Linked DNA regions of Homo sapiens. The protein of the gene in region 1 purifies or fractionates together with the protein of each later gene. This does not show direct contact. Each region holds a gene or a part of one and is shown on either strand. Other genes may lie near its edges. The genes, in order: SRSF4, HP1BP3 and YTHDC1.

Region 1 (8,498 bases):
TGGAATGATTTGCTTGAAAAGATGTGTTGAAATGGCTTTGAAGAATAGATTAGAGCTTGAAGTGAAGAAATTTAGGTTTCTGGGAATAGTATATGTCGTAGTTGGGGCTCAGGCATGGTGACTTGTGCCTGCAATCCCAGCTGAAGTGTGAAGATTACTTCAGGCCAGGAGTTTGAGACCAGCCTGACCCCATCTCTAAGAAAAAAATTTTTTTAATTAGCCACGCGTGGTGACACTCGCCTATAGTCCTAGCTACTTCAGAGGATGAGGCAGGAGGATCACTTCAGCCTAGGATTTCAAGGCTACAGTGAGCTATGATTGTGACACTGCACTCCAGTCTGGGTAACAGCAAGACCCCCATCTCTAATAAAATAAGTACAATGCTGACTTTTTTTGCTTTTTGATGAATAGGGAAAAAATATTTTTTTAATGTCATAATTGGTGTTGAAGACATGGTCCAGTAAGAAGCAATTATGAAAAATAATAAACAATCTAGCATGGATCAAGCCTTATGAAGAATCTAGAAATTTAACAACATAAACCAGAAACAACGACTATTAGATTTTACACTAAAAATTCGAAATCAATGAGTAGGAATTCAAAGGCTCTGGAAGGAAGAAGTGAGCAACCCAAAAGGAAGATGGAGCGATAAGAGGAAAGAGCCTTTCAGGACCCTAAATACCTGGGTGGTTTTTTTAAGGAACTGTTCATTCTTACAGTTATGCTGCCAAACCATGATATGCATGAAATGTCATTGAAAGTCAAGGTTGAAATGAAGTCATTTTAGAGTTTCAAAGACAGGTATGACAGTCACCAAACAGCACACAATATGACCTCCTGGCATCATTGAGGAATCATTACAGAGGAAAACGACTTCTGGGAAGAAGACCAATGGTAAAGATGTATTTCAAGCAAAAATTGCCTGTATGGCAAAAACGCTGGAGAGTCTGAAAGGAAGGAGTGAGTACAAAAGAAAAAGCATAACTTAGCTACGTATGTAAGCTTATAGTCCCCTAGCAGAAGGGCAGTGGATCTCCCTACTGGGAAGCATGTTTGAACATATCTAGATTGTGATTAGTAATTGAAACTCAGAGGCCGGGCGCGGTGGCCTGTAATCCCAGCACTTTGGGAGGCCGAGGCGGGCAGATGACGAGGTCAGGAGATCGAGACCATCCTGGTTAAGATGGTGAAACCCCGTCTCTACTAAAAATGAAAATAAAAATTAAAAAAAAGTAGCCGGGCATGGTGGCAGGCACCTGTAGTCCCAGCTACTCGAGAGGCTGAGGCAGGAGAATGGCGTGAACCTGGGAGGTGGAGCTTGCAGTGAGCCGAGATCGTGCCACTGCACTCCAGCCTGGGCGACAGCGAGACTCTGTCTCAAAAAAAAAAGTAATTGAAACTCAGAAACAGATTTTGGATGCTTTAGATAGGTCTTTGAAGAATTGCTGGAGTTCAGATTTGTAGAAGTGAGATGTATCAGTAGATATGTTAGGCTGAAGGGTTGTAAGTTAAGTTTAGAATTAAGGCATAAAATGCTTGTCTAGACCGGTCACGGTGGCTCACACCTGTAATCCCATCACCTTGGGAGGCCGAGGTAGGTGGATCACTTGAAGTCAGGGGTTTGAGACCAGCCTGGCCAACATGGTGAAACCCCATCTCTACTAAAAATACAAAGATTAGCTGGGTGTGGTGGTGGGCACCTGTAATCCCAGCTCCTCTAGAGGCTAAGGCAGGAGAATTGCTTGAACCTGGGAGGTGGAGGTTGCAGTGAGCAGAGATTGCATCACTGCACTCCAACCTAGGCAACAGAGCAAGACTCTGTCTCAAAAAAAAAAAAAAAAAAAAAAAATCTTGTGTAATAGGAAGATGACCAAATAAGGAAACAAATGAGTTCTTCAAAGGAGATTTAGTGTTCAGGAAAGGATTCTATGGACCCTGAGAGGGTTTGGAGAAGAGGTGTGTAAGCAAGAGTTCATTGCCTACCGTTTTATTACACCAGGCATCGCTAATGTAGATTGCCACTGTTCTAGAGAACTTTTTGAAAGATGGTTTGGGACCACAAATACAACGAAGATCTCCCAGGATCATATAGACCATTCCATTTCCCATTAAGGTCTCCTACTTTTCTACCCGCCCCATAAACTTCAAGAGTCACTGCAAGGGCCTGGCACGGTGGCTCACACCTGTAACCCCGGCACTTTGAGAGGCCAAGGCAGGCAGATCACCCAAGGTCATAAGTTCAAGACCAGCCTGACCAACATGGAGAAACCCCTGTCTCTACTAAAAATACAAAGTTAGCCGGGCGTCGTGGCACATGCCTGTAATCCTGGCTACTCGGGAGGCTGAGGCAAGAGAATCACTTGAACCTCAGAGGCATAGGTTGCGGTGAGCCGAGATCCTGCCATTGCACTCCAGCCTGGGCAACAAGAGCAAAACTTCGTCTCAAAAAAAAAAAAAAACAAAAAGAGTTACTGTAGGGAAGGGAGGGGCAGGAATCCTAGATGCACGTCAAGGAAGCAACAATATTAGCAGCACTTGTTTATACCCTTTCAGCTCTGTGGTAACTTTTGTTGGCTTTGATTGTATATAGATTTTATTTTTTATAATAAGCCATTTCATGTAAAGTGTGAAAGAATTTTGAGTACACTAGTTGCCCTTTTGTCATAAAATCTTGTGGTTTTAGTCAGATCTTTATATCTTAGCTTTTCCATATTTTAGTTAATGAGTAAAACTTACCACATATTAAGATTATTTTGCCTGTCTAGTAGCTAGAAGGATAAACCCCCAGATCATTGAAATTTATAGTTTTATTTTTTAGTTCAAGTCATGAATTAAAACTCTCAAGGGAAACTTGGATTTAAACTTCAGAACCTGCGTTTCATGGAACAGTGAAATCATGAATAGCCTGAATTTTCAGGGGATGTTGTGGTCTGTTTAGTCATGCTATCTAATTATTACCAGAAAATTTTTGTTTTCGCCCTTGTTTAATGCACCATAATTTTTTTAATGTGGAGTTCAAGACTCTTCGAGTGAGGCAGGTCGTTGTTGTGTATGTCACTGCTCACTGGAGGGCATTATTAAGCCTTAGATACTGAGAAGAATTACTGCCAACCCCAGCACCTACACAGGGATTTTTCTCTTTTGACTCCTGAATTCTTGACAGATTAGGAAGTATATAGTTAGTTTAATGTTCCAGGTTGCTGGTTTCTGGTTAGATGAGCTGTTACAGTATTTTTTTCTTTTTTTTTTTTTTAAAGTTTTTAGTTTTTAATTCTCCCAAGGCTTCTCCCAAGGCTCTGTCATTCATCGTTACCGTATTCTTAATCATGAGAGGGATTATCTTCACCCACCACCAAGTGGCAGAGAAGTGCTTTATCATTTTTATGATAATGCTATAACTAATGAGTGACAAAAGAAAAAGCAAACACTTTGCCTTTAGGAACCCTACCACCTATTTGTTGTTTTTTTGTTTTTTGTTTTTTGTTTTTTTTGAGATGGAGTCTTGCTCTGTCGCCCAGGCTGGAGTGCAGTGGTACAATCTCAGCTCACTGCAACTTCCGCCTTTTGGGTTCAAGCAATTCTCCTGCCTCAGCCTCCCAAGTAGCTGGGACTACAGGCGCGTGCCACCACGCCCGGCTAATTTTTTGTATTTTTAGTAGAGACAGGGTTTCACCGTGTTAGGCAGGATGGTCTTGATCTCCTGACCTCATGATCCACCTGCCTCGGCCTCCCAAAGTGCTGGGATTACAGGTGTGAGCCACCATGCCCGGCCACCTTTTTGTTTTTAAGCCCTTCTGCCAGCCTCAGAAATAGCATCCCATTTGCACTGGCATGTACAAAGCATTAGAGTCTATGTTAAGAAAAGGAAGACATTTGGTTCTGGATTAATTTTAGGATTATCTAAGAAGAGGTTAAAACAAGTTTTGTTTAAAAGCGTGTTTGAATAACTCTCTTTATGTATAGTTAAAATTAAAGACCCACTCTTAATTTTCAAAGTAGCACATATTTATAATTGGAAATTTTTTTTTTTTTTTTTTTTTTTTTTTTTGAGACAGCGTCTGGCTCTGTCGCCCAGGCTGGAGTGCAGTGGCGCAATCTCGGCTCACTGCAAGCTCCGCCTCCTGGGTTCACGCCATTCTCCTGCCTCAGCCTCTCAAGTAGCTGGGACTACAGGAGCCCGCCACCGCTCCCGGCTAATTTTTTGTATTTTTAGTAGAGACGGGGTTTCACTGTGTTACCCAGGATGGTCTCGATCTCCTGACCTCATGATCCACCCGCCTCGGCCTCCCAAAGTGCTGGGATTACAGGCGTGAGCCACCACGCCCGGCCGGAAATTTTTTTTGAGATGGAGTCTCTGTCTGTTGCCCAGGCTGGAATGCAGTGGCACAATCGTGGCTCACCTCCCAGGTACAAGCGATTCTGCTGCCTCAGCCTCCCAAGTAGCTGGGATTACAGGTGTGCACCACCACCCCCGGCTAATTTTTGTATTTTTTGTAGAAACGGGGTTTCACCACGTTGGCCAGCCTGGTTTTGAACTCCTGACCTCAAAGTGATCTACCTCACAAAGTGCTGGGATTACAGGCGTGAGCCACCACACCTGGCCTATTATAATTTTTTTATATGGAGAAGGACCAAAATAATCCAAAGATGTAACTCTTTGCATTTTGGGTTTTTTAGTTTTACTTTTTTTCACATACAGGTATGGGCATGTGCACGCACGCACTCTGTCTCTCTTCTTTTCTTTTTTTTTTTTTTAATTAAAAAACCCACCGGCCAGTTGTGGTGGCTCACGCCTATAATCCCAACACTTTGGGAGGCCAAGGCTGGCAGATCACAAGGTCAAGAGATTGAGACCATCCTGGCCAACATGGTGAAACCCTGTCTCTACTAAAAATACAAAAATTAGCTGGGCATGATGGCGCACGCCTGTAGTCCCAGCTACTCAGGAGGCTGAGGCAGGAGAATTGCTTGAACCCAGGAAGTGGAGGTTGCAATGAGCCTAGATCGGGCCACTGCACTCCAGCCTGGTGATGGAGCAAGACTCCATCAAAAAAAAAAAAAAAAAAACCTATCTCCTGCACAGTCTCTCCCTTTTCTTATGCCTCTCCTGACTCCTTTTTTTTTTCCAAACTTGGAATCATACTATAAGTTATTTTATAATTTGCTTGTTTCACCCTAACAGCCTGATCCTTTTCCTTTGTCATTAAGTATTCTCCTACAACCTGGTTTCTAATGGCTACATAGTACTCCAACATACATATGTTATTTAATGGACATAATCAGAACCATGTTGCAAGGCATTTAGGTTATCTTTATTTTTGTACTATTTTATGCATGTATAATACTGTTGAATATCCTTTATATGAATTTTTGTATACATTTCTTTTTGCCTTAGGGCAGATTCCTGCAAGTAGACTTTGGGAGTCAAAGCATATACACATTTTAATGCTTTTGCTAGCTATTCCATTACTCGGTAAATTAATATTTACGTTTCCACCTGCGGTGTTTAAGAGCTCCTATTTTTTTTTTTCTTTTTTCTTTTTTTTTTTGAGATGGGGTCTCAATCTGTCTCCCAGGCTGCAGTGCAGTGCAGTGGCATGATCTCAGCTCACTGCAACCTCTGCCTCCCGGGTTCAAGCAGTTCTCCTGCCTCAGCCTCCCAAGTAGCTGGGATTACAGGCGCCTGCCACCACACCCCGCTAATTTTTGTATTTTTAGTAGAGACACAGTTTCACCTTGTTGGCCAGGCTGTTCTCAAACTCCTGACCTCAGGTGATCCGCCCACCTCATCCTCCCAAAGTGCTGGGATTACAGGCGTGAGCCACCGCACCCACCAAGAGTTCCTACTTTTCTGAACAGTGCCCTTTATTATAATTTTTTAAACTAATTTTTTCTAATTAAAATGTTTAGAATTATATATGAGGAAATCATTTGGCAGCCTTTAAGGCTTGTCTATTTAGCCTATCAAGCATAACAAATTCAAGAACTTTTTGGACCAGGTGCGGTGGCTCACACCTGTAATCCCAGCACTTTTGGGAAGCTGAGGTGGGCGGATCACTTGAGGTCAGGAGTTTGAGACCAGCCTGGCCAGCATGGTGAAACCCCGTCTGTACTAAAAAGACAAAAATTAGCTGGGTATGGTGGCACTTGCTGTAATCCCAGCTACTTAGGAGGCTGAGGCAGGAGAATCGCTAGAACCCGGGAGCCGAGATTGCACCATTGCACTCCAGCCTGGGCAACAGAGTGAGACTCCATCTCAAAAAAAAAAAAAAAAAAGAAAAAAAAAAAACAACTTTTTAGGCCAGGCGTGGTGGCTCACACCTGTAATCCCAGCACTTTGGGAGGCCGAGGCGGGCGGATCACGAGGTCAGGAGATCGAGACCATCCTGGCTAACATGGTGAAACCCTATCTCTACTAAAAAAAAAATACAAAAAAAATTAGCCGGGCCTGTTGGCCTGCGCCTGTAGTCCCAGCTACTTGGGAGGTTGAAGTAGGAGAATGGCGTGAACCCGGGAGGCTGAGCTTGCAGTGAGCCGAGATCGCACCACTGCACTCCAGCCTGGATGACAGAGCAAGACTCTGTCTCAAAAAAAAAAAAAAAAAAAAAAAAAGCCTTTTTGACTCATTAGAGAATAAATGTAGGTTAATTGTAGATCATTTAGATATTATGAAAGCATAAAGTGAAAAGTATCATTAAGCATCCTTTTAAGATGGGTGAGGTTTTACGTGCAATTTTGTGTCACGCTTTTTTTACTTAATTTATCTCATGTATTTTCTATTACATTAAAATCTTCCTTATTAATGGCTTCATAAAATCCATTGTATGGCAATATTATGACTTACCCAACCATTCCTCTTATATTGTCTACCTTTTTTTTGGTCTCCTAATTCTTGCTGTTATAAGTAACCCTGTGATGGGTATTATGTGCATAAAACTTTGTTTGCATTTTTATTATCCCTGAGTACATATGGATTCCATGAAATAAAATTCATGTGTCACAGCAGGAGTGAACATATTCAAGTATCTCAGTGCATATAACCAAATAACTTTCCAGAAAAGCTACACCAGTTACACTTAACACCCGCAGTGTATGAGCATGCCCGTGTGATGGGCACTTCAACAGCATGGAGTACCCCTGTTGTGTTTGCTGGCCAGGCGTGGTGGCTCACGTCTGTAATTCCAGCACTTTAGGAGGCCAAGGCGGGCGGATCACCTGAGGTCAGAAGTTCGAGACCAGCCTGACCAACATGATGAGACCCTGTCTCTACTGAAATTACAAAAATTAGCTGGGCATGGTGGTAGGCTCCTGCAATCCTAGCTACTCGGGAGGCTGAGGCAGGAGAACCGCTTGAACCCGGGAGGCGGAAGTTGCAGTGTGAGATCACACCATTCCACTCCAGCTTGGGTGACAGAGTGAGACTCTGTCTCAAAAATAAAAAATAAAAATAAAAGATGCTAATTTACCAAGTGAAAAATAATCAGGAAGTTTTTCTTGAATGAATAATAAATAGAGATAGGACTATGAATTAAGTAGCATTCTGTCATTGTTTTATTAGTAATATAACTATTACAAATGTGATCAAATTTTTTTTTATTAAAAGTCACTTTTTAAAGTCAACTTACCCCCCAAAAAAGTGTATTATTTTTTTCCCCCAATATATGGGGAATTTAATTTTTTTCTGTCATTTTGAAAAATCAATGCCAAGAGATAATACCATATTGAGATTTTTGACCAAATGTTAACAGCGTAAATTGCCCTGGTTCAAGACCTCCACTCCTTGGTTCTTGGTCCCTTCAGTTTGTGGTATGAATAAACATCATTTGTAATTATTTGACTAAGTCATTTAAAATCCCTGTTCTTCAGTTTAATATACTGTTTTGCTCCTCCTTTCTCATTGAGGTACTGTATGAATTTAAGGGCCATACGAAGTATTTGTCCCTTCTTAAAAGATAGGCACAGGATATAGACTCGGTAATAAAATGTGGTTTGGGTTTCTAGTATTTTTTTATGCTTCCAGGTACCCAGAACCGCAAATTTTACTTTGAGCTCCTCAGAAGAAAGGTGCTCCAGGCATCTGAGAGAATACCGTTGGGGTGATACTTACAAATTTGTAAGCTAACACTGAAATCTTAAAACTTCCGAAAATATTAATGCATTTGTATGACTTATTTTTCAACTGAGTATGTCAAAGTACTTTATGAACAAGTGTTGTCCCTAGTTTGTACTGATGGGGAAACTGAGGCATGGGGTGATAAGGTGACTGGCCCAAGGTTACAAAATGAGTTATTGACAACTCCGGAAATAGAAGATTTTTTAAATTCCCATACTAGATACATGTGGGCATTGACATTCAAAGCTTCCCTCATGCTATTTCCTTTAGTCCTGTCCTTTGGGGATTGCCTCTGAGGGTGAGAGGGTAGTTCAGGTTTCCGGGCTTGTTCAGCCTTTAGTCTCTGTAGAGGCTTCCAGCAAGCTGACAAGTTACTGCCAAAAGT
Region 2 (7,000 bases), 8.4 Mb from region 1:
TTTTTTATTTTTTTTATTTTTATTTTTTTTTGGAGTTCTCTGAAGTCCCTGCATAACCAGTGCCTGGGGTTCTGTGTTTTATAGTAGCTACTCAGAGACATGCTGTGAAGGAAAGGCACAAATAGCAGCAGACCTCCATGTTCCCCTCATATTTCTACTCTTGCTTCAGTCATTCCTCTTGGAGAATACATGAGTTTTTAAATTACTTATTCTCTGAGATTTGCCTGTTGAATTATAAAATGGCTAGTTTCTTAATTATGAGTCTCATGAATATTGCAAAGTAGAATAATTAAACAATTGGGGATGAAATGAGTTTTCCTTTCTATGTAATTTCCTGGTCTATTTTTCTAATAATAGATAAATAACCACCTGACCAGGAAACTTGAGTGACATAAAGAATGTAAGAAAACTGCATTAGTGGTCATTCATTTTCATTTTAGAATTCATTTGTTAATTGGAGACTTTGGCTGGTCCGTTTAATAAGATAAGCTTTTACCTTTTATTGACTCAGATTGGAATACATCTGCTTATGCAATTCTGCTCACCTGATTTTTTAGAACCAGACATAAGTTCAGAGGAATCTGTCTCCACTGTAGAAGAACAAGAGAATGAAACTCCACCTGCTACTTCGAGTGAGGCAGAGCAGCCAAAGGGGGAACCTGAGAATGAAGAGAAGGAAGAAAATAAGTCTTCTGAGGAAACCAAAAAGGAGTAAGGAGTTATGTCTTCTTGCTATTTATATTTGAAGAATGTGTAAAAGGACTTTAGATTAGATTGTTTTAAAGTGTTATAACATTGGTTTATGCTAGGTATTTGCTATTTGGATTTAATTTTTAGAATTACCATTTGAAATAGGTTTATTATATAGTTGTTTGACCTGTTAGAATATGCTGTAGTTAGCAGAACACAATGGTTTGAATAATCCAAAAGTCTTTGTCATTGGCTTTGGAATGTGTTTTTGAGCTTGTAATTTATTGTGGGAGTATCTGATATTTTAAGCATTGGCAAGACTTCAATAAGAAATGAAACATAACTATAAAAATCTGACCTAGAAGACATTTCACTATTTTATTCCTACTTCTGTGCCAGGAGTGGGTTGTTTTTGTGTGCTTATGTTAGAAGGCATTGATTTGTATCAAGCCATTGGTAGTGTGACCTAAAAGTCTATATATGTTTGATGAAATATTCAGTTGAAGAATTGGCTTTGAGAATCTGAAAGTAAAATTTGCTATTGATGTGTATCTATATAAAGTGATGGCAGTTACTTTTTAATTTTTAATTTTTTTTTTTTTTTTTTTGCAGGAGAGCTGATAGTATTCATTCCACTCTTTTCATAATTGGTCAGAACAGTTAGAAATTGCTTTTAACTATAGTCATGCATTGCTTAACAATGGGTATACATTCTGAGAGATACATCTTTAGGCGATTTCATCATCGTGCCAACATCATAAAGTGTACTTACACAAACCTACGTGGTACAGCCTACTACATACCTAGGCTTTATGGGATAGTCTGTTGCTTCTAGGCTACAAACCTGTACAGCATGTTACTGTACTAAATACTGTAGGCAGTTATAACACAACGGTAAGTATTTGTGTATTTAAACATAGAAAAGGTACAGTAAAAATATAATATAAAAGATAAAAAATGGTATACCTGTGTAGGACACCTACCATGAATGGACCTTAAAGGATTGGAAGTTGTTTGGGTGAGTGAGTGAGTGGTAAGTGAATGCAAAGGCCTAGGACTACTGTGTGCAACTTTTAAAACTAAAAAGTTTTTATTTTTAGCAACTTTTAAAACTAAAAAGTTTTTATTTTTAAAAACTTTTAAAACTTTACCAAAAACAAAGACACAAGCCGGACGCAATGGTGCACAGCTGTAGCCCTAGCTACTTAGGAAGCTGAGGTGGGGGGATTGCTTGAGTCCTGAAATTTGAATCTAGATTGGGCAACGTTGTGAGACCTCATATTTATAAAAAAACAAAACTAAGACACATACACACACCTTAACCTAGGCCTGCACAAGGTCAGGGTCATCAATATCACTGTCTTCCACCTCCAGATCTTGTCCCACTCAAGGCCTTCAGGGGCAGCAACACACATGGACCTGTCATTTCCTATGATAACAGTGCTGTCTTTTGGAATACCTTCTGAAGGACCTGCTTGAGGCTGTTTTACAGTTAACTTTTTTTTTGTAGGTAGAAAACATATACTCTAATGATAAAAAGTATAGTATAGTAAACACATAAACTAGTAGCATAGCTGTTTATTATCAGGTATTATGTATAATTGTAATGTGCTTTTTTTTTTTTTTTGAGATGGAGTCTTACTCTGTCACCCAGGTTGGAGTGTGGAGTGCAGTGGCGCGATCTGGGCTCACTGCAACCTCCACCTCCCAGGTTCAAGCGATTCTCCTGCCTCAACCTGCCAAGTAGCTGGGACTACAGGCGTGCACCTCCACACCTAGCTAATTTTTGTATTTTCAGGAGAGACGGGGGTTTCACCATGTTGGCCAGGATGGTCTCAATCTTTTGACCTTGTGATCCGCCCACCTTGGCCTCCCAAAGTGCTGGGATTACAGGCATGAGTCACCGCGCCCAGCCAATATGCTATATTTTTGTATGACTGGCAGCACTGTAGGTTTGTTTACACCAATGTCACCACAAACAAGTGAGTAACGTGCTGCGCTGTGATATTACCACAGCTATCATGTTAACCAGGTAATAGGAGGTTTTCAGTTCCATTATAATCTTAAGGGACCACCATTGTATATGTGGTCTGTTGACCAAATATTGTTACACAGCACATGACCATAAAAGAATAACTTAGTAATAACTATACCTTCTAGCTATAATCTTCAGGGTATTCTTTATCTGAGTTTCATAAGTATAGCTAAGGTCTGTGGAATTTATAGCAACTATCGTGTGTGGGTGTGGGTGTGTTTGTGTGTGTGTGTGTGTGTTTAATGGAGATGGCGTCTCACTATGTTGGCTAGGTTGGGCTTGAACTCCTGGCCTCAAGCTGTCCTCCCTCCTCAGCCTCCTAAATTGCTGGGATTACAGGCATGAGCCACTGCACCCAGCCTATCGTCTGTTGTTAAATGTTCTAATGCACCTATTAGGTGCACAGAGTACTGTTATATACTCAGAATAAAATTTACATAATGCTTTAAATCTCACAAAATTGTTTTGATAAACATACTCTTATAATTCTTGCAACACCTTGGGAAATAGTTGGTTCTATATTACTGTTTTATAGCTGAGGAGAAAGACTCACATCATTTACTAAGATCATATAGCTAGCTAGTAAATGTTTGAGTGAAAATACAAACAAAGGTTTTCTGACTTTAAGAGCTTGAGTTTTTTCCACTATACCATATTGCATCTGTTGTAATTGTTAACTAATGTGCATTTTAAAATTCTCATTTGTCTTATGTACTGAGCCCTTATACCAGTGCTAATTTATGTGACTCCTTTCTCCTGCAGCTAAGAGAAAAATACCTTTTTAATTCATTTATAGTACCCAGTTTTTAAAGAAGATTTATTTTGTAAAATTTTGCTTATGGTACATGTCATCTTAGCCTGTAAATAAATTAAAGCATTAATTTTTATCCCTCCCTGGTCTTTTCCTCCTTCTGACTTTATACGTCTTTCTAGAGAGCTTATCTTCTATAATAACAATTCTTTGTTTTAAAGTGAGAAAGATCAGTCTAAAGAAAAGGAGAAGAAAGTGAAAAAAACAATTCCTTCCTGGGCTACCCTTTCTGCCAGCCAGCTAGCCAGGGCCCAGAAACAAACACCGATGGCTTCTTCCCCACGTCCCAAGATGGATGCAATCTTAACTGAGGCCATTAAGGCAAGTTTTTATTTCAAGCAATTCATCTTAGATTTATTATGTTCATTTTTTTCTTATTTGAAAATGGCATATATCTGTCTAGACATCATAAATCTTGTTCTGCTTCCTAAAGGAGTTTTAAAGAGAGGAAAGTCATTATAAGTTCATGTTTTTCTAATATAATCACATTTGGTGAACACTGTTAATTTTTTTAAAAAAATTATATTTAATATAGCAAATATTTTAACTTTAGAATTTTTAAATGCAGTTTATCGATTAAGTACAGTTTTTATTTGAAGGCTGAAAATGTTAATTCATTGAACAAACATTTAAGGACTACCTTCCTCTGTTGGGCGCCCCTGCTAGTGGTGAATTAACTAAGGCTAGCAAAGTCCTTGCCCTTATAAATCTAATTGTGACTCAGTAACTGAAAAATATTGAGAATTTTTGTTTAAAAAATATCTCTAGGTTCATTTCTAAAGCTAAGTGATCTTGGTAGTGGTTATCTTTCACACCTGAACCCTGTTAATAAACACTGCTTTATTACCTAGACATTCCAAAATGCTTACAAAAATTATCCTCCTTACATAGATTTATGATTTCATTGACTTTCATTAGATGTAGTTTTCCTATTTTAATTTTTAAAGGTTATCTTCTAATTTGACATTGCCTTTATTGTATAAGTCTTTTCATTTAATTTTGCCTTGTTTAGTTCATATGATCAGATGATAAGAGGAGTTAGAACAGACCCATCTTTCAGGGACCCTGTTGTTAGGATCTGAGGCAGGACTGGGGAGACAGGGATACAGATGATTTTAACCAGAAAAGGGGGGATGTGTACGAAAAGGAGCAGCCTGGTTGTCATTCTCAGAATATGAGAAGATAGCACTAACACATAAACTGGAAAAAGGGTTTGCCTTCAGACTTCTCCCTTTACTCCTTCAAGACTTCTTATGCTCTCACCTCATTAAGAAAACTTTATTGGTCTAGATTACCTCACTGTAGTGAAATCTCTGTTCTTTGTATAGCCTTTCTTCAAGGATTTCACTTGATGACCACTCAGCCTGGGTTTGAAGGAGCAGCATCATAGTGAGGATGGAAAAAGGGCTGAAACTTTAAAATAGTGAAATAAAAAATTAAAACAATATCAATTTGGCTTAAAGAATGGTTTGAATATAATTGTGCATATTTATGGAGATGATTGATTTTATATAGATAATGTGTATTCCATGCAATATGACAAATTATTGTTTCAGACCATGGATACCATTTTCTGTATTGAACAGGAATCATGATGTCTACTACCATCTCACTGTCGGATTGGTGGAGCAAAAGATTATTTGTTTCAGCATTAGTGTTCTTTTCTGCTTGATTTTCTTTGCTCTGTGTTTTCTTTTAAGATCAGGAGTAAACCTCAGTAGGTCATTAATAGTTCAGAGACATAGACTTGAATTACATGACCCATATTAATACAACTTGTTTCGTGTTGTGCAATCTTTTCTGGACCATCTACCTGTGAGTTATTTTTCTTTGTTGTCAAAATGTATAAAAACATTCAACGAAGTTCTTATCCAATGAGAATGAATAAGTGCTACATTGATTTAATAGACACTGTGGCAGTACAAAATTGATGGACTAGCTCATTAGATAAATGACAGATGCTACTTTTGTGTGTTTCAAAATTTAAAGTATTTGATTTCAAGTCAGTGACCAGTTGGAAAACAAAATTTTAAGCATTTGAAAAAAATTAAGTATTTGCTGCCTTTGTGACATAATGAGCTACTTAATTCTTCCAGGTGCATTAGTCAAATGGAGTATAAGTAAAATAGGATGGAAATGGAAGAGGGCACATTAAATTCAAATAGAACACCTTCACTATTACCCAAAACTCTCCTTCAGCACTTTGCCATCTGTAAACCCATTTTTATGCCACTTATTCAGATTATCTTTGATTCTTCTTTCTGCTGACATTCATACAGAGCCTTCAGGGAAATGTCCTGGCATGCTCATTCCTTAAGCTCGTGCCTTAAAATGGGACAGATCTGTGATCCTGTAAGTGATAGGTTTGTTCTGCTTTTCTCATTTTGATGCCAAAGATTCATCTTCTAAATACAGAATGGAATTAAAATGGAAAGAGGTTCTTCATTATACATAGAATGTTGTTCGTGTTCAGTATGGTCTCTTAGGCTGTTTTGAACAATTTAAAATTGTAGTAGAAATATTTAGTAATTCTGTTACTTCTCTGTAGTCATTATGAACTGAAGTCTTCTGAAGTTCATTCTTCCCTACCGTTTTTGTCATCTATCATCAAATTCACTTCCAAAATAATTTATTTTGAAAATATATGTCAGGCTCTATCTAATAAAAAAAAACAACTAGTTTAATAAATCTTTTCTAGGCATGCTTCCAGAAGAGTGGTGCATCAGTGGTTGCTATTCGAAAATACATCATCCATAAGTATCCTTCTCTGGAGCTGGAGAGAAGGGGTTATCTCCTTAAACAAGCACTGAAAAGAGAATTAAATAGAGGAGTCATCAAACAGGTATTACACAATTGTTAGTAGTAAGATCATTTCATTGTGTATTAGCTTTAAGTCTACAGTTAGTAACATTTAGGCTTTTTGTGCCTTTTTTGTTAAAAATAAGTTTCATGATGATGAAATTCCTTAAGTTTAACCTAGTTGAATTATCTGAGGCTAGGTTTCGAAAATGCTGGTGCCATTAAGATAGTGTAACTTTTTTCTAGCTTACTTTGCTCTTAATTGGATATTTTTTGGGGGGCTGCTTGTGCTTGAAATCATGTAGCACTGAACATGAAAAAGAGGTAAGGAATCCTACTACTGAAACAGCAAAAATGAGGCTAGGGATGGTGGCCTACACCTGTAGTCCCAGCACCTTGGGAGGCTTAGTTGGGAGGATCACTTGAGCCCAGGAGTTCGAGACCAGCCTGGGCAACATAGCAAGACCCCTTCTCTACAAAAAATACAAAATCAGCAGGGTTTGGTGACACATGCCTCTAGTCCCAGGTACTTGGAAGGCAGAGGCAGGAGGACCGCTTGAGCCTGGGAGGTTGAGGCTATTGTGAGTTACGATCTCACCACTCCAGCCTCGGTGAGAGTGAGACCCTGTCTGAAAACAAAAAGGAATAACAGAAATAATAATTGC
Region 3 (8,498 bases), on another chromosome or scaffold:
CAATTAAGGCCCTGACTTTGTAGTTATTTCGTGTGTTTTTATTTGATTGAAACTGATGAAAGAAACAAGATGCCCGTACTTTTTAAACAGTATTTTTAAAATAAAACATTCTGAGGAAATTGAGGGATCAGGAGAGAGGAGCACAGACTAATAGAAGGGCTATGCAAAAACTAGACATGTAATGATACATTCTTGTTTGATTACTTCTCTTCGTTTCTGTATTGTGATTTAAAAAAAAAACTCTTGTTCTTTTTAGATGAGAAAAAGAAGGAAAGGAAGAGAGCTAGAGGCATATCTCCAATTGTTTTTGATAGAAGTGGAAGCTCTGCATCAGAGTCATATGCAGGTATTCTCATTTTGTGATCATATCTGACTTGATTCTAATGTAATCTGCTTTAGAAAGCGTGTGGAGGCTGTAGTTTAGTGTGAACTTGTTGATGTCCATTAGCACTGATTTTTGGCATGTTCAGTGTAATAATTCTAGAGAAAACTAAGCTTTTTCTTATTATTTTAATCCTGTTCTGTTACTGCTTAAGTGGAATTTTCACTTTTTTTTTCTTGGAAGATGATGATTCAGTGACTAGTTTTCTGAGTGGGAAACTGTTCAAATATACATACTTTTAAAAAAATCCAAACAACCCAAAAAGCAAAACACTCGTACACATTGAGAAGTTTTTTTTGTGTGTGTGGGTGCGCCAGGAAGAATAATTTGTCTTGAATGAGAATTTTATGTGACAAGACTGTAGAAATTTTGTCTTATCTCTATTAAAGCTCAATCTGAACAAATGTACTTTGGCTAAATACAGGTTCAGAAAAGAAGCATGAGAAATTATCATCTTCCGTTCGTGCTGTCCGAAAAGGTATCATTTAAATTTGAAATTGTTTTCATTGCATGCTGCATAGTCATTATTTTTCCTTATTGGTTCTCCATTAATAGCTGCTTTTAATGTAGTAATGTTCCGATATATTACATGAAGCAAAAAATAATATCTTAACATAGAAAGCTCTGTGTCTGCTTCTTACTGCATATTTTTTAGAATAATACCAAACATTTCAGGATATTTTAGTTTTTGGACAAAATGGGATGGGTGTGTGTGTGTATGTGTGTATGTGTTATATATAGATGTGTGTGTATATATATGTATGTATATAATGGTCTGTTATTCTTGAATCTGAGTAAGAAAATCTATAAAACTTGGTAACCATTTTCATACTTAAATATGGATTTGATATATCGGAACATCACTAGGTTAGGTTTACTTTCTTGCAATATGCTGATTGTCTTTTCTTAGCTTTGCTTTATTACATGTGGCTTAGCCTTCCAGGTTGAATGGGTGATTGTTGCGTTTTAAAAGTTTAGCTGGGTTGTGGAGGGCTAATTTCAGTTAGTACAGTTTTGACCCCTTTGTGTGATAATGGCTTGTGGTTAATCGATTTGGGTTTCTTTTTTTTTCAGATCAAACCAGTAAACTCAAATATGTGCTTCAAGATGCAAGATTTTTCCTCATAAAGAGTAACAACCATGAGAATGTGTCTCTTGCCAAAGCGAAGGTATTAGCATCAGTTCTGTTGAAACTATCCTAATATCAAAATTTTTAAATGGGAAAATAGACTTGTATTATATCAAGTAGCATAGGTATTATGATTTTCATTACGGCTTTAAAGATCTACATTCCAATGGCCACTTAGGATCTGGTTGTAGTCAGTCAGCCTACTTGTAATTTGAGTTTTCTTTTTTTTTTTTTAAGATGATTTTAGGGGTCAGAATATTAAATGTTGAAGGCTATACAGTTTAACTTTTTGCTGTAAAAGATCCTGTTTCTGTTGATTTTTGTTTCTGTACTTCCTCAGTGGCTCATTTATTGTGCTAACACTTCTAAAAGTACCTGTAGTTAACCAATTTTTGTTTTATGTTGATGCTTGATTTACACTTTGAGGTTCTTTTGAAATCATTCTTTTATGGAGAGTTTTATTTTTTAGAATTAAGATCATTGGGATTTAGAAGAAAAAGAATTAGCTTAAAGATCCACTCCAGACTTTGCAAAAAAGATATGCATAGTTGCTGTAGGATGTTGTAAGATAATAATTTTCTTTTTATGTTTGGCTACAAAAATACATTTTTGTGTTACACTAGCTGTTACAGTGTTTTGCTATTCTTGGTTTAAACTGAGTAACTACAGTTTCAACTGATTTTCAGAAACTTAAAACTAAAGTTAGACATTTCTCTAATGATATTTCTGTCAGTATTCTATATTTCTACCTTAAGGACTACCCCTAAAACTTTACAAACAGAAGGAAACAGTACACCAAATAGCCTTATTCTGTTCTCTAGCTTAAGTGGATTTAGGCAGAAGTACACTTGGCCCTCGGTATCCACAGGGTTCCTCATCTTTCGATTTAACTAACTGGATTGAAATATTAGGGGAAAAAGGAATGAGAAATAATAAAACAGAAAATACAAACTTAAACACAGTATAACAACTATTCACATAGCATTTACATTGTATTAGGTATAAGTATTCTAGAGGTGATTTAAAGTATATGGGAGTATATGCATGGGTTATACGCAAATACTGTGCCATTTTATATAAGGGACTTGAGCATCCTCAGATTTTGGTATCTGCATGGGTCCTGGAACCAGTCCCCAGTGGAGACTGAGGAACAACTGTAAGCACTTAGTTTGAATGAGATGTCATTTGTATGAGCAGATGGTGTGAGCTGAATGATAGCATCTGCCTTATTATTCCATTTCTTTTTATCTGTTATGAATGAAGAATTGGTTAAAATGCTTTAGAAATTAACAAATATCTTCCAGCTGTAGGTAAAACGTAGGCCTCTTCAGTCAAACTATTGATACATAAAAATTTGAACTTAAAAACTGCTTTAAAAAACGAACTTAAATAGAAAAATGCTAGATTCTTGACTAATAGAGTAATTTTAAATTATTTGATCAGGTACGGTTTTGCAAGAAGACTAACTTCTAAGTGGCGATTCACCTTCAAACAGGATGTATTTACCACAGTAAATGGTTGTAATATTAAAATAATTGTAGTGATTGGTTTTACTATATAGAATTCTAGTCCCTTAGATTTGAACCTCATCTCCATCTATTTACTACTTGCTTTAATGGTTTTGTAAAATTGGTAATTGTCTCCATTTTTTCCCTTAGGTTTTTATAAATTATTACTACGTTATTCTGACAGCTGATAAATAAAACCTTTCTTCATTATAGCTTACTTAAATTGAAAGCACACCAAAATATGTAGTTTTTTTTCAAACATAACTGGAAACACAAAAGAGTTGTAGTTAATTTCACTTTGTGGTCTTTATGTTATTTATGTAGGGTGTATGGTCCACGCTCCCTGTAAATGAGAAGAAATTAAATCTTGCATTTAGATCTGCAAGGAGTGTTATCTTAATATTTTCTGTCAGAGAGAGTGGAAAATTTCAAGGTAAGAATAAAAATAATTTGGACATATAAAAACATTAATTATATTAGCATCTACATATTATATTATGATATGATTCTCTTAGGGTTTGCAAGACTTTCTTCAGAATCACATCACGGAGGATCTCCTATACACTGGGTGCTTCCAGCAGGAATGAGTGCTAAAATGCTGGGAGGTGTCTTTAAAATTGACTGGATTTGCAGGTAAATTATACACTTCAGTATAGATAACTGAAATTTTGAATACACTACCAGTTTAGAATAATGTGTTAAAGTGAAAAAGTCACTGTATACTTATCTTACCTTGTTCAGTAACTACCTTTATCTAATGTGGGACACAACAAAGGCGTATTTAGTCTAAAGTTACATGTATTTGATTTGTTTTGTATATTAGTAATAAAGCAGTAAATGAATTGGACAGTTGCTTGAAATGTTGTCTGGCGTATCTGTATAATTTTAGTGATTTAACATGTCACTTAAGTTATTGAGGAATGGGAAATAAGTACTATGACTTGGCTAACAATTTCGGAGGTAACTAGTTTAGTCGTGGACAGTATTTTTTAAGGAGGTTAGCAAATGATGTTTAGTTGCCATTGTGATCTTCTGAAACTGAGTTAAGATTTAACTGTATTTATTAGAAAAATAATCAGGCTTATTTTGAACACTGAGTTGTCACTATTTTTAGGTCCTTACTGCACACTGAAGTATTGTACACAAGAAGCTCATTATTTAAGTGATCTTTACGTGGCATACACAAATGTATTACCTGTAAAATTAATTTTAGTTAAAAAGTGTCTGAAAGGAGATGGTTACTTTGTGAGTTTTAAGTTGTTTTTGGGTATTAGATCTTGATGAGCCTGAAGGGGTCGGATGAAAAAGAAGAAAAATGCTATGCATATGATGGAAATCAGCCTAAGCCAAGAAGAGCATGGAAACAAACTATGGGGTTGCAGGGTTGTGGGGAGCAGTGGGAGGGCATATGGATGTGTGAGTGGGATAGGGAGCTACCTTTTTTTATGAAGGAGATGGTTAGGAAAAGAGAAGAACAGAGGGCAAAGATGGATAAGAATGAATGAATGTGAGTCAGCCTAAATGTTTATTGTAGGATAGTGAGGAGCTGTGAAGATAGAGGGAGTGATATATTACAAATAGCATACAGTCACTTACTGTGTAGTGACATACCCATCAACAAAGAATCTTGTCCCATAAGACTGTAGGACTCGTAAGAGGTACCTATAATACCATATTTTACTATACCTTTTCTATGTTTAGATACACAAGTATTTTCCATTGTGTTACATTTACCTACACTATTCAATACAGTAACATGCTGTGCAGATTTGTAGGCTAGGAGAAACAGGTCATACCATATATCCTAGGTATGTAGTAGGCTATACCATTTAGGTTTGTGTAAGTGCATTCTGTGATGTTCACACAATGAAATCACCTAATGAGTGTATCCCTGTCATTAAGTGACACATAACTGTATTAGGTTGATAATAGCGTAGCAAAAAGCTATGTGCAGAAAAAATACTCATCCCATTATTACTTTCTGTGGGAAAGAGTTGGAAATCATCTAAATTCTTTGAAATAGAAAATTAGTTAAATTATAGTTTGTCTCTTAAATATATGTGGAAGTAATTGTGCACATATCAACATGGAAAGGTATAACAAATGAAAAAATACATAATTATGGTATTGGAATGCAGTGTTAGGTGGTGAGACTGTTAGTGCTTTCTCCCACTTCCTCTCTGTTGCCCCCAGGGGTTTTAAAATATAAACTTGGTTTTTTTGAAATCAAAATTATAATTAAGTTATAATTAAAGTTGAAAATCTGGTGACAATTTGTAGGAAAGGGAGTGATTATTTTTATTTTGTGTGTGTATGTGACTGCTCTGTAAAGGCCAGAGGAAACGTTGTAATGTAACATATTTGCAGGTGTTGCTTTCTTGGGAACAGGAGAGAAAATAATTGCCCATTTTTATGTGGGTTGCAGCAGATTTTGTTTCAAATGTTATTTGTTCTGTTAACCTTCATTTTTACATTACTGATAAGGAAATTCTTAATTTTAAGATGAATTTAATTTTTCATGGATTATTCATTCTTCATATTCCTCTTCATTGACTTATTGACTATTCTACTAATTTGTTTGAAATGTATCAAGCAACCGAAGAGGTAGACAGACTCAATTTGTCTATCCTACTAACGTGAGGTGTAAAATTGTGGGCAGTAAAGTGCTTTTATTATTTTAAAGTAAGTTTATGGGTTTACCTAGAAATAGTATTTTTACATAATAAAACTATAGTTTTAATGTTTTAATACTCAAGTTCTATTCAAGTGTAATTTTACAATACTTTACAGTTCTGGAGGGCTTGTGATATTTCTAACATTGATATTTCCTTAGATAAGTCACTTGAACTCTCTTGAGTTTAAATTCTCTCTATATAGTGAGAATTACATTTGAGTCTCAGAACATTTAAATTTAATAAATAGAAATGGTCAGGACTTTGCTATCAACAGTAACTGCTGTTAATATTTTTTTCTTTTGCAGATATAATAATTATTAGATTTATATTTAAGGACCCTTTGGATATAATAATAACTAGACTTAAGCTTTTTTAGGTGTGATCCCTGGATCACTTACATCAGTAGCATCTGACTGTTAAAATGCAGAATCTTGAAACCCACCTCAAACCTGTTAAATTCTTGATGGTTCAGGTAGTTGGTAGGCACATGGAAGATTGGGACCAGATAAGTGTCATGTTTTAGCTGATAAAGAGAGGGAGGCATAAAAAGCGACTTATTAAGGTTGCCACCTGTAATTAGCTCAAAATAAGGCATGATCTATGAAATACTATTCATCCAGAGTTACATTTACTGACTAGGTGTTATATTCCTTTCATGTCCATTCCAAACAACCCATTTCTGTTTTCATTTAGAGTCTCTCCATTTTTCTTTTCTTTTCTTTTGAGACGGAGTTTCGCTCTTGTTGCCCAGGCTAGAGTGCAATGGCGCAATCTCGGCTCACCACAACTTCCGCCTCCCGGGTTCAAGCGATTCTTCTGCCTCAGCCTCCCTAGTAGCTGGGATTACAGGCATGTGCCACCACGCCCGGCTAATTTTTTATTTTTAGTAGAGACGGGGTTTCTCCATGTTGGTTAGGCTGGTCTCGAACTCCCGACCTCAGGTGATCCGCCCGCCTCAGCCTCCCAAAGTGCTGGGATTACTACAGGCATGAGCCACTGCGCCCGGCCTCCATTTTTCTTTTTAACTTTAATCAACAAACCACTGTCCAGCATATAAGAGCCTCTGCATGGCTGGGCGCAGTGGTTCATGCCTGTAATCCCAGCACTTTGGGAGGCTGAGGTGGGTGCATCACTTGAGGCCAGGAGTTCGAGACTAGCATGGCCAACATGGTGAAACCCCGTCTCTACTAAAAATGCAAAAATTAGCCAGATGTGGTGGCGCATGCCTGTAGTCCCAGCTACATGGGAGGCTGAGGCATGAGAATCCCTTGAACTCAGGAGGCGGAGGTTGCAGCAAGCCGAGATCATGCAGCTGCACTCCAGTCTGGGTAACAGAGTGAGACTGTGTCTCAAAACAAAAAACTGTGCACAGTTTTACATTCTTTGTTAAATTTGCCCTATTTGCAGAACCACTTAGGTCAGAGAGTCCCTTACATGTTCTCAAAGAACTCACAGTAAAGATAAGTTGTATCTGTATGCTTCATAACATAGCTGCTCAGAAGGTAACTGTTAGGTTGCTTGTTCTATGATTGTGATCTGAGAAGAAAGGATAAAATAAGGATGCTACATGGATCACAGACCCTGCAATTTTTCTTAATTTATTCTGAGCCCTGTTTTGCCTCAGGCTTCACAGTTTTCTGTGATGTTCTGGCTGAGATTAACTGTGTTGAAACAGTGAACAGATGTCTCTTGAATCTAGTTGGAACCAGTGCCACCAAAGAATCTCAACCCCAAATGATACATTTAGCTTGGCCTATGCTTTTACTTCTACTTGGATCGTGGGTATTTAATTGCTGATATTTAAATAACAGTGATAATCCCATTAATTTATAACCTTCTTATATTTTGGTGGCTGTAGGTTTTCATTTATGCCTTTCCTATAACTGTTTTAAACTGGCAATTAGAAGAAAAATTTAAATTATTCAACAGAATACAAAGAAAACTAGATCTCTGCCTCTGGATATTCAAGCTTTGATGTGGACTTGTTCTAGTCTTTCTACTTCTGAGAGCCTGAAAAGGGGGAAAAAAAATTCAGTATTTTTGACTCACTCTTGATGGGTGAAGTAAGGTGTATATTAGAAAAAGAAACCAAGCTTTTAAGTGATACTTAGTGGATATTTTCATTACTCACTGACCACTCTTCCATGTATATATATATCACCTCCATCACAGAATATACCACCTTGTTAATTTAACTCTAAAATACTTCTATTTCCCTGGAAAATGTCAAAGTTTTTCCTGAGGTTTAAAACAAGTTATATAAGATCTGAGCATTCAGGCCAGGTGTGGTGGCTCACAGCTGTAATCCTAGCATTTTCGGAGGCTGAGGTGAGAGGATTGCTTGAGCCCATTTATTCACAATCAGCCAAGGCAAAATAGATCCAATCTCTAAAAAATTAAATTTAAAAAAAGGTCTGAGCAGGCAATATTCACTTTCAAGAAAATTCATGTAAGGTTATGTGGCATGTTCACTGGGCAAAGTTACTTATGTTTTCCCTTTTCCATTATGCCTGTGTTCTAGCCCTTCTCTTTGTTTCAAATGTATCCCTGCCTTAGTTCTCTACATAAGGCTTTACCTGGGTTTTCTTTCAAGCTTAACTCTTGTACCACTTCTTTCATGAAGCATTTTGTGATTATTTTTCTTTCTTTCAAAATAGATACAACCACTCCTATTAAAAACAAAAAAAAAATCTTCTGTATTGTGCATATAGTACCCATTGTCTTTGAAAATTGTGTGTGCTTATTTTTCTTCGATGGCTATGGAAGAAAGGTTAGGGATGCAAACTCTTATCTTTCTCGTCTTT

The links.
Region 2: the proteins of SRSF4 (region 1) and HP1BP3 purify together in Homo sapiens (affinity purification with mass spectrometry; 2 studies listed by BioGRID and IntAct, with this or other methods). This does not show direct contact.
Region 3: the proteins of SRSF4 (region 1) and YTHDC1 purify together in Homo sapiens (co-immunoprecipitation; 2 studies listed by BioGRID and IntAct, with this or other methods). This does not show direct contact.

What each region holds. Positions count from the first base shown.
Region 1 is NC_000001.11:29,171,245-29,179,742, reverse strand, and holds part of SRSF4 (serine/arginine-rich splicing factor 4), read left to right. Parts: intron 1-4,024; exon of another isoform or gene 4,025-8,498. UniProt on the Homo sapiens protein: Plays a role in alternative splice site selection during pre-mRNA splicing. Represses the splicing of MAPT/Tau exon 10.
Region 2 is NC_000001.11:20,770,308-20,777,307, reverse strand, and holds part of HP1BP3 (heterochromatin protein 1-binding protein 3), read left to right. Parts: intron 1-557; coding exon 558-711; intron 712-3,697; coding exon 3,698-3,857; intron 3,858-6,234; coding exon 6,235-6,378; intron 6,379-7,000. UniProt on the Homo sapiens protein: Component of heterochromatin that maintains heterochromatin integrity during G1/S progression and regulates the duration of G1 phase to critically influence cell proliferative capacity.
Region 3 is NC_000004.12:68,325,156-68,333,653, reverse strand, and holds part of YTHDC1 (YTH domain-containing protein 1), read left to right. Parts: intron 1-256; coding exon 257-346; intron 347-806; coding exon 807-860; intron 861-1,456; coding exon 1,457-1,551; intron 1,552-3,343; coding exon 3,344-3,452; intron 3,453-3,534; coding exon 3,535-3,652; intron 3,653-8,498. UniProt on the Homo sapiens protein: Regulator of alternative splicing that specifically recognizes and binds N6-methyladenosine (m6A)-containing RNAs.